3 linked regions of the Homo sapiens genome follow. The protein of the gene in region 2 purifies or fractionates together with the protein of the main gene of each other region. This does not show direct contact. Each region holds a gene or a part of one and is shown on either strand. Other genes may lie near its edges.

Evidence for each region.
Region 1: the proteins of RAI1 (region 2) and SCAI purify together in Homo sapiens (affinity purification with mass spectrometry, with the first as the bait; one large-scale study listed by BioGRID). This does not show direct contact.
Region 3: the proteins of RAI1 (region 2) and CAMSAP3 purify together in Homo sapiens (affinity purification with mass spectrometry, with the first as the bait; one large-scale study listed by BioGRID). This does not show direct contact.

What each region holds. Positions count from the first base shown.
Region 1 is NC_000009.12:125,141,381-125,145,126, reverse strand, and holds the start of SCAI (protein SCAI), read left to right. Parts: upstream 1-1,598; 5' UTR 1,599-1,689; coding exon 1,690-1,742; intron 1,743-2,449; coding exon 2,450-2,494; intron 2,495-3,746. UniProt on the Homo sapiens protein: Tumor suppressor which functions to suppress MRTFA-induced SRF transcriptional activity. May function in the RHOA-DIAPH1 signal transduction pathway and regulate cell migration through transcriptional regulation of ITGB1.
Region 2 is NC_000017.11:17,684,578-17,688,046, reverse strand, and holds part of RAI1 (retinoic acid-induced protein 1), read right to left. Parts: exon of another isoform or gene 1,859-3,469; intron 1-1,858. UniProt on the Homo sapiens protein: Transcriptional regulator of the circadian clock components: CLOCK, BMAL1, BMAL2, PER1/3, CRY1/2, NR1D1/2 and RORA/C. Positively regulates the transcriptional activity of CLOCK a core component of the circadian clock.
Region 3 is NC_000019.10:7,605,724-7,609,369, forward strand, and holds part of CAMSAP3 (calmodulin-regulated spectrin-associated protein 3), read left to right. Parts: intron 1-547; coding exon 548-670; intron 671-752; coding exon 753-848; intron 849-1,053; coding exon of another isoform or gene 1,054-1,086; intron 1,087-2,097; coding exon of another isoform or gene 2,098-2,145; intron 2,146-2,402; coding exon 2,403-2,541; intron 2,542-3,646. UniProt on the Homo sapiens protein: Key microtubule-organizing protein that specifically binds the minus-end of non-centrosomal microtubules and regulates their dynamics and organization.

The sequences.
Region 1 (3,746 bases), on a different chromosome or scaffold from region 2:
AGGTCCTGTTTTATTGACAATATCTGCCATATATCAGTGAGGATTGGTCAATTATGGAAGATGCTAAAAAGCAGGCAATGGATTTTTAATAAGGAATATAATAAATGTATTTCAAGATTACTTCCCTAGTGAGTTGATGATCCCCCTTCGTCTGACACAAATTATTCTCGAGTTCTTTCCTCTCTCTGGCTTGATAATATGGGTGGAAACTGTTAGTTGAGATTGAGGTGATTTGTGGTTCTGTGACTTTAGGATTACGTGAAATACTAATTTGGGGGACCAACAGAGATTTGACATTTTTTCAAAGCAATTTTTCAATTCCTACTACAATTTACCGTCAGTATTACTTCATAAATGGAAAGTCATTTTACCATTAAAGATGTAGGTAGGACCATCTCAGAAGAAAAGACAACTCTTTACACCAAATACATTTGGTTTTGTGAAAAACTAGTATCCTAATTTTTGCCGCTTATGGAGATCAATGAGAGATTTTCCCCACCCCAATGTTGACATGTACTACTCGACGCTGTCATATTATTGAGGCATAAAAGATGTTCTAATAAAATGGAAGTGACTTAAGAGAAAGTTTTATGCCTCCTCCCAACTCTGAACAGATGCTGAGAATATACCAAACAAGTTCACACAGGAGTAGAGATTTAGAGAGGCCTTCCCACCTTCAAGAATTTTATAATACGTTAATGAGCTGAGTCTTATTTTCAAGGATGGCTTTGTTAAAGCAGAAGAAGGGTAACTATGCTTATGAAAGGCAGTTTTGCATGCCTGTTTGTCAAAAAATACAGTACAATTTATTTTAAAATTGATTAATTGGTGTAGAACTTGCAATGGTCACACAATCAGGATGGTCAGCTTCCATTCAGGGATCAAATTTGTCCAGGCCTTTCAAAATGGAACACGTTGCTTTTAGTATGGCATTGGTTCTGTTTGTAGTGCTGATTTTTCTTTCATGGTAATTAAAAAAAAATCTTACTTTCTTAAAAGCCTGCACCCAAGCTAGTGAGCTTTTCTGCAGAGGATTGAGCATCCAAACCATGCTTTATTTTGGTGGATTCTTAGAGTTTTCTGGCTGGGTCCTTTTTGAGGGGTAGCTGTGAGCTGTGAGACAATTTCAGCAAGATGTAGGGACAAGGATCGCATTCGAGGTGGCTTAAAAGGAAACACGTTTGTGAGAGTTGCCTCACTGTCTCACCTGCTAGAAGAAATTGGGAGATTTCAGGGCTTGTTTTCGGTCCTGGCGTGGTGCAGAGGTGGAGGGGCGCCAGCAGGTGTGTGGTATGCAGGACGCAGAGCCAGGAGAACCTGGGGCAGGTGTCTGGAGCCGGGGGTGCAGTTCCTACTTTTAGACGCATGGTGGCGCTAGGGTCTCCTCCGGCCCTGCTAGCAATCTCTAAGGCACCTCCGCCGCCACCTGCAGTCTCAACCAAACCTCTGGGTGGGCAGCGCGGGATGTGACGGGCCGAGCGTCCAATCGACTGACAGATTTCCGTCCACACTACTGCTCTAGCCAATGGGAGCCGAGGAGAGGCGCGGAGGAGGCGGGCCCCGCGGCAAGCCTGGCAGAGGCGCGAGGCCCTCCTCCCGCCTCTCCGCCTACTCCAGCCTCCGCCGCCTCAGCTTCCCGAGCGAGCCCTGCGGCCGCCGGAGCAGCTCCCGCGGCGGAGCAGGAGCCGGATGGTCAGAGGAGCCCGGCAGCCCCAGCAGCCGCGGAGTCGCCTGGCCCCCAGGTGCGGGGGCTGGGTGGAGGCCGGGGTTGGGGATGGGGTGGGGGCCAGGGAGCGGGCCCAGGGGCAGCGGCTCGGGGCGGTGGAGCATTCGGGGCGCAGAGACCGGAGGGGCGGGGGGTGCAGGCTGGGGGGACCTTGGGGGCGCCTGCAGGCGGCGGCGCGGGCTGGGCGCGATCGCCTCCTCGAGGCCAGGTGAGAGGGGCGTGTGAGGGAAGGGGCGCCGAGGGGTGAGGCTGGCGGCGCGGGGCCGGGAGGGGCAAGGCGGGCGCGCCCCCGGAGGGGCCGTGGAATGCGGGGGTCGCCGGGCCCGGAGAGGCGGGGCGTGGAGGGGGCAGTGCACGGTCGGGAACGGGTGGGCACAGGAAAGGGGAGGCTAGGGGGGCTTGCGGGGGTGACGAGGCAGACAATGAGTAGGTGGAGGTGGGTGATTTTGGGGAGCTGGGCTGTGACGAGCAGGGGTCGAGGATGGGGTGAGGGACCAGGAAGGTTTGAGCTCAGGGGGAATTGGGGGAACGGTGAGTCCCAGGAATGCTAGGTCTTGGTAAATAGGGGAAACAGGGCATGAGGCGTTTGTAAGGTCAGATCTGGGCTTGGCGAGCCTGTGGTCCCAGAGGGTGGTCTATTTAGTTCTTGACTGGCACGGTAGCGCCGGGAGATGTTTTCTTGTATGTTACTTTTAGTTACCGTCTTATTTGTTTGGTCTGCAGACTGACTGGCACAGTGGAGAAACCGCCTCGAAAACGGAGAAGCAGGTAAGGCAGTGCCTTCCTATTTTGCTTCATGTTTTTCTTTTTGCTTGGCTGCACCTGTGCCGTACTGCATAATTGTATACTGTCAGTAGATGAAGTTTCTTATTTATCCCCCTTTTAAAAGAATATAACCACATGCATGATTTTTCTTTTGAGGACTTCAAATTACTACCTCTACAGTCGATTTTTTTTTTCTTGGTATCTAAGATAATGTGGGAAATCTTGAGAAATCCTACTTTTTTACTTTTTGATGTTGTGTAAGGATCTCAGCTATTTTTTTTTTTAACCTTAGCCATAATTTCATTTTCTCCAGCATCTCTGTTTAAAAAGCTCATCTTGGCTGGGGTGGCTCATGCCTTCAATCCCAGCTCTTTGGGAGGCTGAGGCAGGAGGATCATTTGAGCCTGGGAGTTCAAGACCAGTCTGGGCAACAGAGCAAGACTCCGTCTCTACAAAAAATTGAAAAACTAGCCGGTCCCATAAATATATACACCTACTATGTACCCACAAAAACAAAAAATTAAAAAAACAAAAACCAACTAGCTGAGCGGGTGTTGTGGACCTGTAGTCCCAGCTTCTCAAGAGGCTGAGGTGGGAGGATTGCTTGAGCCCAGGAAGTCAAGGCTGCAGTGATGCAGTGAGCCGTGATCATGCCACTGCACTCCAGTGTGGGGAACACAGCAAGACCCTGCCTCAAAAAATAAACTAATTTTATTGAGCATCTACTATGTGCCAAGTACTGTGTACGAATGCTCTATGTGTATCTTCTCCTGTAATCCTCAAAGAACCCTAAGAGAATATGTAGTGTCACTATTTTACAGAAGAGGGAACTGCGACACAGAGAGGCCAAATATTTACCCAAAATCATGCATCTAGTAAAAGATAAAACCAGGATTTGAATCCAGACAGTCTGACTCCAGAGCTTAAGCTCTTAACTGTTATACCATAATGCTGCTAATAAATATGCAATTGAAAGTAGGTTTTCTTATTGCTTTATCTTTTGTCGTTGGACACTGTGTAGTTAACTCGAATGGTTGAACCTTAGGAAAATAGAAGCAAAGAGTTTAAGTAGTCCACAAACAAAGTGAATTAGTCCTTGAGTAATGGAGATGAAGATATATTTATCACATAAACATTTTTGACTGCATTCCATGTGAGAGGTACTACATAGCAATTCTGTGTAGTCATTAGATGATTCCTTTTTCACAGATGTTGGCATTGACCTAGAGAAAGTAAGCTACTGTAGTTATGTGAC
Region 2 (3,469 bases):
TTTTTTTTTTTTTTTTTTTTTGAGACAGAGTCTCCTTCACCCAGGCTGGAGTGCAGTGGTGCTATCTTGGCTCGCTGCAACCTCCATTTCCTGGGTTCAAGTGATTCTCGTGCCTCAGCCTCCCAAGTAGCTGGAATTACAGGCATGGGCCACCACACCTGGCTAATTTTTGTATTTTTAGTGGAGATGGGGTTTTGCCATGTTGGTCAGGCTAGTCTCAAACTCCTGACCTCAAGTGATCCGCCTGCCTCGGCCTCCCAAAGTGCTGGGATTACAAGCGTGAGCCACGGCGCCCCAGCTCACCTTTAATGCTTACAACAAAGCCCGTTCACATTTTTGACAGAAGAGGAAACTGACCCTCACAGAGGGAAAGTGACTTGCCCGAGGGATGCTGCAGTTAAAACTCAACCACTTTTCCTGATTCCGAATCCAGTGCTCCTTCCCCTACCCCGACCCTATCTCGCCTTCCAGATGAGCACAGTCTCCAAGAAGGGAACTCTAGGAGGCGAACCCAAGCTCCACTGGATTCTGCATGTTCTCCCTCAAGCCCCCTGACCATGGGCCTGCAGACGCTCTGAGCATGCCTGCTGTCCCTGTTCTATCAGCTGTCTCCACGGGGTCCCTGGTTTCTCATGCCCAAGGAGTGGGTGACTTGGGTCCACAGACCATCAGTGCAAGAGCAGTCCACTCTTCCCCCATTTACAGATGAGACCGAGGCCAGAGAGGAAAGGAAGACTCCCCAGCAGTCCTGGCTCCCCACCATAGTGCCTAACACATGGCTTCCCTGCCCCCTACCCCATGCTCGCCTGCTCCACCCTCCTCTCCTGCCTCTGCACAGCATTCTGGGCACCTTCTCTCCCCCAGCCTGATCACTTTGTGCAGAAAGAGGTTGCTCAACTAGCCGGGCGTGGTGGTGGGCGCCTGTAATCCCAGCTACTTGGGAGGCTGAGCCAGAGAATTGCTTGAACCCGGGAGGCAGAGGTTGCAGTGAGCTGAGATCGCACCATTGCACTCCAGCCTGGGCGACAGAGCAAGACTCCATCTCAAAAAAAAGAAAGAAACCGGATGCTCATTGTTCACCTGGCCCCTAGACTTCAAGGGTGCGAAGCCTGGACCACAGGCTTGCTCCTGTCTGGGGCCATGCAAGCATGGAGCCAAGCAAGAGAACACTTAGGGTTGTCTGCTGGACAGACGAAGGAAGGCATGGCTGATGGTGGTGTGAGACGATGCGCCTGGCTGCTTTCCTTCCTGGCCCTAAGCACACTCTTCATACTCTCCAGCAGCAGCAGCAGGAACTTCTCCCTCACTCCTTGCCGTCCCCCCACTTCCATCTCTCCCTGTCCCTGCTCACCACTCCCCAGGTCCTCCACCCCCACTCCACCTCTCTGCCCTCATGTTTTTCTCTTCCCCATCTCTCCCCTCCCCGGCGCGCGCGTGCACACACACACACACACACACACACACACACACACACACACGGGTTCAAGAACCAGTGGAGCGAAATCTGTCCTTTGCCAGCCAAGCCCCAGCCTGTACCTCCAAGCCCTGCCTCCCACCCTGCCTCCCCTTCCCTGGTGTCACATTCCAATCTCAGATCCCCAGTGACCCACCAGGAACAGGGCACAGCTCTGCCTCAATCACTGGGGAACAGGATGAGCCAGTTTCTCCCAGCCCCCTCAGGAAGCAGCCTGGGGAAGCTGCCCGCCACCTCCCCCTGCCCCCCGACCCCACCAAGCCCCTCACCCCACTCATCTAAAGGCTGACAGCACAAGATCCACACAGACCTGAGCATGCCCTTGCTAAAGATCAAAGGGGCCCACGGGAGACAATGTTGGGGCTCTCACCCTCTCCACCTCACCTGGCCCTCCTGCCAGGAAGCATTTCTGAGCGTCCTGTGTTCTAGGCCTCGCCCTTGGCACTGGGCCGGAGAGAGCAAGGAGACGTGCTTTCAGGCCTCGATGCTTCAGCCTCATGGGGAGGACAGACACTGGCAGAATTGCCGATAATTCCGTGATAAACGCTATGCCACGAGTATAGACAAAGGGAGATGACTCATTCTGCCTCGGAGGTCAGAGGAGGAGGAGACAGGACGTCTGTTTTGGTCTGGGGCGGCAGGGAGGAAGGTGAGGGGCATCCCAGGTGGAAGGAACAGCCCAGCCCGATGCACAGAGGCAAGGATGCACATGGCTGCACCTTAACAAGGAGGTGCCAGCTGTGGCTGGAGGGGACAGGACTGAATGAGGACAGGGCAGGCAGAGGACACCAGAAATGGCCCTGGACAGCATGGGAAGAACTACAGATGGGACCTTTATTCATAAGGCAGCAGGAGCCACTGGAGGTTATCTGCTGGGTTTAGAACGATCGCTCTGACAGTGCTGCTGGCCAGCACCTGGGAGGGGACAGGATGGAGGCAGGGAGGCCAGTGAGGAGGTCCCAGCAACAGCCCAACCTCTTCCGCCACCATTCTTTCTGAGCCAAGTCCTCCCCTCTTGTTTGGCTACAGCACACAGGCCACATCCCTTCCAGCTTCCAAAGACTCGCTCTGCTCACTGTGTTCCCTCTGCCAGGAATGCTCCTCTCACTCTTACCTCGCCGTGCCTGAAGCACCTGCTCAAAGGCCCCTCCTCCAGGAAGCCTCCAGCTCTGGTCGAGGCCTTGGCTATGAGCTGGGTCCCAATCACCCACTGGGCTGTGACCTTCTTGTGGTCAAGTGCAGGGATGCTTCCTGCTTGGACCCCGACATTAAGCACAGAACTTTGGAAACAGTGGGTCCTTGGAAAATCCCTGTTCCCTTGGGCCCAGTGCCCAGGTGCCTCTCCCGCAGAGACGCTGCTCTGCGCACACCGTTGCTGTTGCACCTCCTCCCTCCCTGTGGAGCCACACGTTGGATAGGGGAGGAAAAAGACACCCATGCCATGGCCACAGGCAGCTGTGGAAAGCAATGCATTTCAAACATGGGCTGCCATGGAGATAGAACAGCAATAACAATACAACAATGACGGCAGCAATCAGCATTTATTGGCAAAAGCACTGCTCTAAACTTCATATGGATTAACTCACTGCATCTTTACTTCAGTACCGTGAGGTCTGTACTGTTATTCTCCTGATTGTAAAGATGGGGACACTGAGGCACAGAGAGGTAAATGGCCTGTTCAGTATGTGGTGGAGCCAGGAGTCAACCCAGAACTTGCCCTGAAGGACTTCGCCACACAACCAACCTCTCCAAGACAAACGGAGAGGAAAAAGGAAGCTGCCGAGGAAGAGCCCACAGTATGTCCTCACTTGGGGAAAAAGAAAACTATGCATGGATTGGTATATGTAATATACATACATACATACATATATATATATATATATATATATATATATATATATGCATTAAGTGAGTAACAAAAAGTCTGGAAGGATACGTTCAAACTATTAACTGGGGTTACCTGCAGGGAGGGTGCCAAGGGAACTTTTACTTTTA
Region 3 (3,646 bases), on a different chromosome or scaffold from region 2:
CTCAAGCGCTATCCATTAAGCCTAGCTCCTATCAGTCTTGGCTCCTTCCCTTAAGCTATGTCCATCAAACCTAGCTCCTCCTATCATCAGTCTTGGCTCTGTCCCTTAAGCTCTGTCCATCAAACCTAGCTCCTCCCACCAGTCCAGGCTCCTCCCCTCAAGCTCTGTTCATTAAGCCTAGCTCTTCCCCCCAGCCCTGGCTCCTCCCCTCAAGCTCTTCCCATCAAGCCTGGCCCCTCCCATCAAACCCAGCTCCCCAAAAAGGCGCTACTCTGGCCCTTGAGGATTTGTGTACACAGCCCACCCTATCCTAACGCCTAGCATCTGACCTCAAAGTCCCACCCATCGTGCGTGGCTTTTCCGGGACCCCATTTCTTGTTCCTTCCCTTAAGGCCCCACCCATGAACCACTGGCCCCGCCCCCTCAAGCCCCACCCCCCCCGTCAAGTCCCTCCCATCTGCAGGTTCTTCCTTTTCCCAGGCCCTTGGGGGCCGAGGTGCGCCTCCTGCAGCTCTCAGGTCTCACCCTCTAGCGCTTGCCCCCACAGGGAGCCCACCTAGCTGTCATTGATGCCCTCATGGCTGCCTTTGCCTTCGAGTGGACAAAGACCCTGCCAGGTCCCTTGGCCCTGACCAGCTTGGAGCACAAGCTGCTTTTCTGGGTGGACACGGTAGGTGGGGTTGGGCCTGGGGTGGGTTCGGGGACCAGCATCGTCCAGTGGCCAGACCACTGACCCCCTCCCTGCCCTCCAGACCGTCCGGCGGCTGCAGGAGAAGACCGAGCAGGAAGCGGCCCAGCGAGCCTCTCCAGCAGCCCCTGCAGACGGGGCGGCCCCGGCGCAGCCCTCGGTGAGGCCAGGGCATAGAACCGTCAGAAGGATGGGGGACCGGAGATCTGGGAGGGCAGGGCTGTGCTTCCTGGACACTCCTGAAGTGGGGAGGGGGCTAGAGGTGACACACTCTCTCTTTCTTCCCCCCTCTCTCAATCTCTCTGTGCCCTGCCCGTCCCCTGTGCCGGTACCCGCTGCCCTCCTCTCTGCCTCTCTGGCCTCAGTGCCCTACGCGCTGGTACTGGAAGCTGGTTCCTGTAAGTGGGGCTGTCTGTCCGCCCCGTCTGCCTGCCCTGCTTGTAGCTCTGTCTGTCTGTATGTCTGTTTCTGCCTGCCTGTCTGCGCGCCCTCTCATACCTCCCCAAGCTGTGAGCAAAGGAGGTTGGACCCCAGTCCTGGGAGACAGGGAGAACCCCTCTGTGAACCAAGAGAAGGGTAGAATCTCGGCCATTAACTGAGAGGGCAGACCCCTCCCCCAGCGAACTGATGGGTGGGGACGAACTTCCCCTCCCGTTATTCAGAAGGGCAAGCCCTCCCCGTTCCCATTAATGAAGAGGGTGGGACCCCCTGAACCTGTCCCCCTTAGCCGAGGTGGGGAGACCACATAAATTTCTGAAGGGGGGACCTGCAGCCCATCACAAACGTGGATCCTGACCCTAGCAGGCAGGGCACCCTCTGGCCAAGGGGAAGACCCTCCAATGCAGAAGAAGATAGAATAACTTTCCTAACTGAGACCCCCAGCTTCCCTAGAGAAAAATCCCAGCTTTGAAAAGGAGGAGGAGGCCCATCCCTGAAGCTGGAAGTTGAAATTTCTCTCTTCCCTGAATGAGCTGTGTGACCTTGCAGAAGTATCTAAACCTCTCTGTGCTTCATATAAATTACTCCCATAGTAGATAAACAAGGAGGAAGTGGGGGAGGTTTTGGGCTGGCTGGCGTCCCCACCTTTGCTCACTCCTTCCCCCACCCTGGGGCCTGGGTTGGGAGGTTCCCTTCCTGCCTACCCGCTTCCTCTGCATCCTCTCCCCAAGCTGGGGGCCTGGGTCTTTTGTGGGAGGAGGATTCCCCGCATAAGAGGGGGTTCCTACTCTGTGGGGTCCCTTGGGGCTGGGAGGAGCTGGGGTTCGCGAAGCCGGCCAGAGCAGTCAGGGAGCTGGACGGCCGGGGCTCAGGACCAGGGTCAGGGCTACCCCCTCCCCCCCAAGGTGGGCTTGGGGGCCCAGCAGGTCAGCACCCCTCCCCCTTGCTGATGGCTGCTCCTCTCCCCCCAGCACGCAATTGCCTTCTGTTTGAAGGAGTCGGGGAGCAAACCCCCCATGGTAATGTATCCCCCGCCCCGGGGTCCCAGGAGTCCCTGTCCCCAGCCCCCGCTGCTGGCCTGGCTGCTCGAAGACATCTCCTCTGCCTCTTGCTGCTGCCCCTCCCCTGCTCCAGGCTGGCCCCCCAACTCTGTCTCTGGGACCCCCAGCTTCCCGCCCCCTCATGGCGGAAACCCCAGGCCTCCCTGCCCAGCCTGCATGACCGCTGACCCTGGGGGCCAGCCTGGCCACTCACCTGACCTGGCTCCCATCTGCAGATCCGATACCGCAAGGACCGTGTGGTGGCGCGACGTGCCCCCTGCTTCCCGACGGTGACCAGCCTCCAGGACCTGGCCAGTGGGGCCGCGCTGGCCGCCACCATCCACTGCTATTGTCCCCAGCTGCTTCGACTTGAGGGTGAGTAAATGGATGTGGAACAGATCTTGTGCCGGGGAGCTGGGCATCCTAAGTCCCAGCCCCTAGACCCTCCATCCCCAGGTCCGCGAGACCAGCAACGATGCAGTGGTCATGAGGGCAGCTTCCGGAACTGGCAGGCCTGAGTTTGTGTCTCTCTCTTCCCCAATGAGCTTTGTGACCTCACACAAGTATATAAACCTCTCTGTGCTTCCAGGAGTTCATTCCTGCAGCAGATGAAACGTATGGAGTGTGGACTGTGTGCCAGACCTTGTTTTAGGCACTGGGGATCCAGCCAGAATAGAGACACACTCCCCACTTCACAGACGGCTCTAGCTGGGAGAGAAAGATACTAAGTTTATCCAAAAGTACTTTTTTTTTTTTTTTTTTGAGACGGGAGTCTTGCTCTGTTGCCCAGGCTGGAGTGTAATGGCATGATCTCGGCTCACTGCAACCTCCACCTCCCAGGTTCAAGCCATTCTCCTGCCTCAGCCTCCTGAGTAGCTGGGACTACAGCCACACGCCACCACGCCTGGCTAATTTTTGTATTTTTAGTAGAGACGGGTTTCACCGTGTTGGCCAGGCTGGTGTCGAATTCCTGACCTCAAGTGATCTGCCTACCTTGGCCTCCCTAAGTGCTGGGATTGCAAGTGTGAACCACTGCACCCGGCCCAGAAGTACTTTTTGCATACTGGGTAGTCCTAAAGGCAATGGGTGGTCAGAAAAAGCTTTTTTTAAAAAAACTCTTTTTTCTTTTTTATTAAAAAAAAAATTATAGGGCTGGGTGTGGTGGCTCACGCCTGTAATCCCAGCAGTTTGGGAGGCCGAGGCGGGTGGATCACGAGGTCACGAGTTCAAGACCAGCCTGGCCAGGATGGTGAAACCGTCTCTACTAAAAATACAGAAATTAGCCGGGTGCGGTGGCGGGCGCCTGTAATCCCAGCTACACAGGAGGCTGAGGCAGGAGAATCGCTTGAACCCAGGAAGTGGAGGTTGCAGTGAGTCAAGACCATGCCATTGCACTCTAGCCTGGGCAACAGAGCGAGACTCCATCTCAAAAAAAAAAAAAAAAAAGTATAAAATAGAGATGGGGTCTTGCTATGTTGCC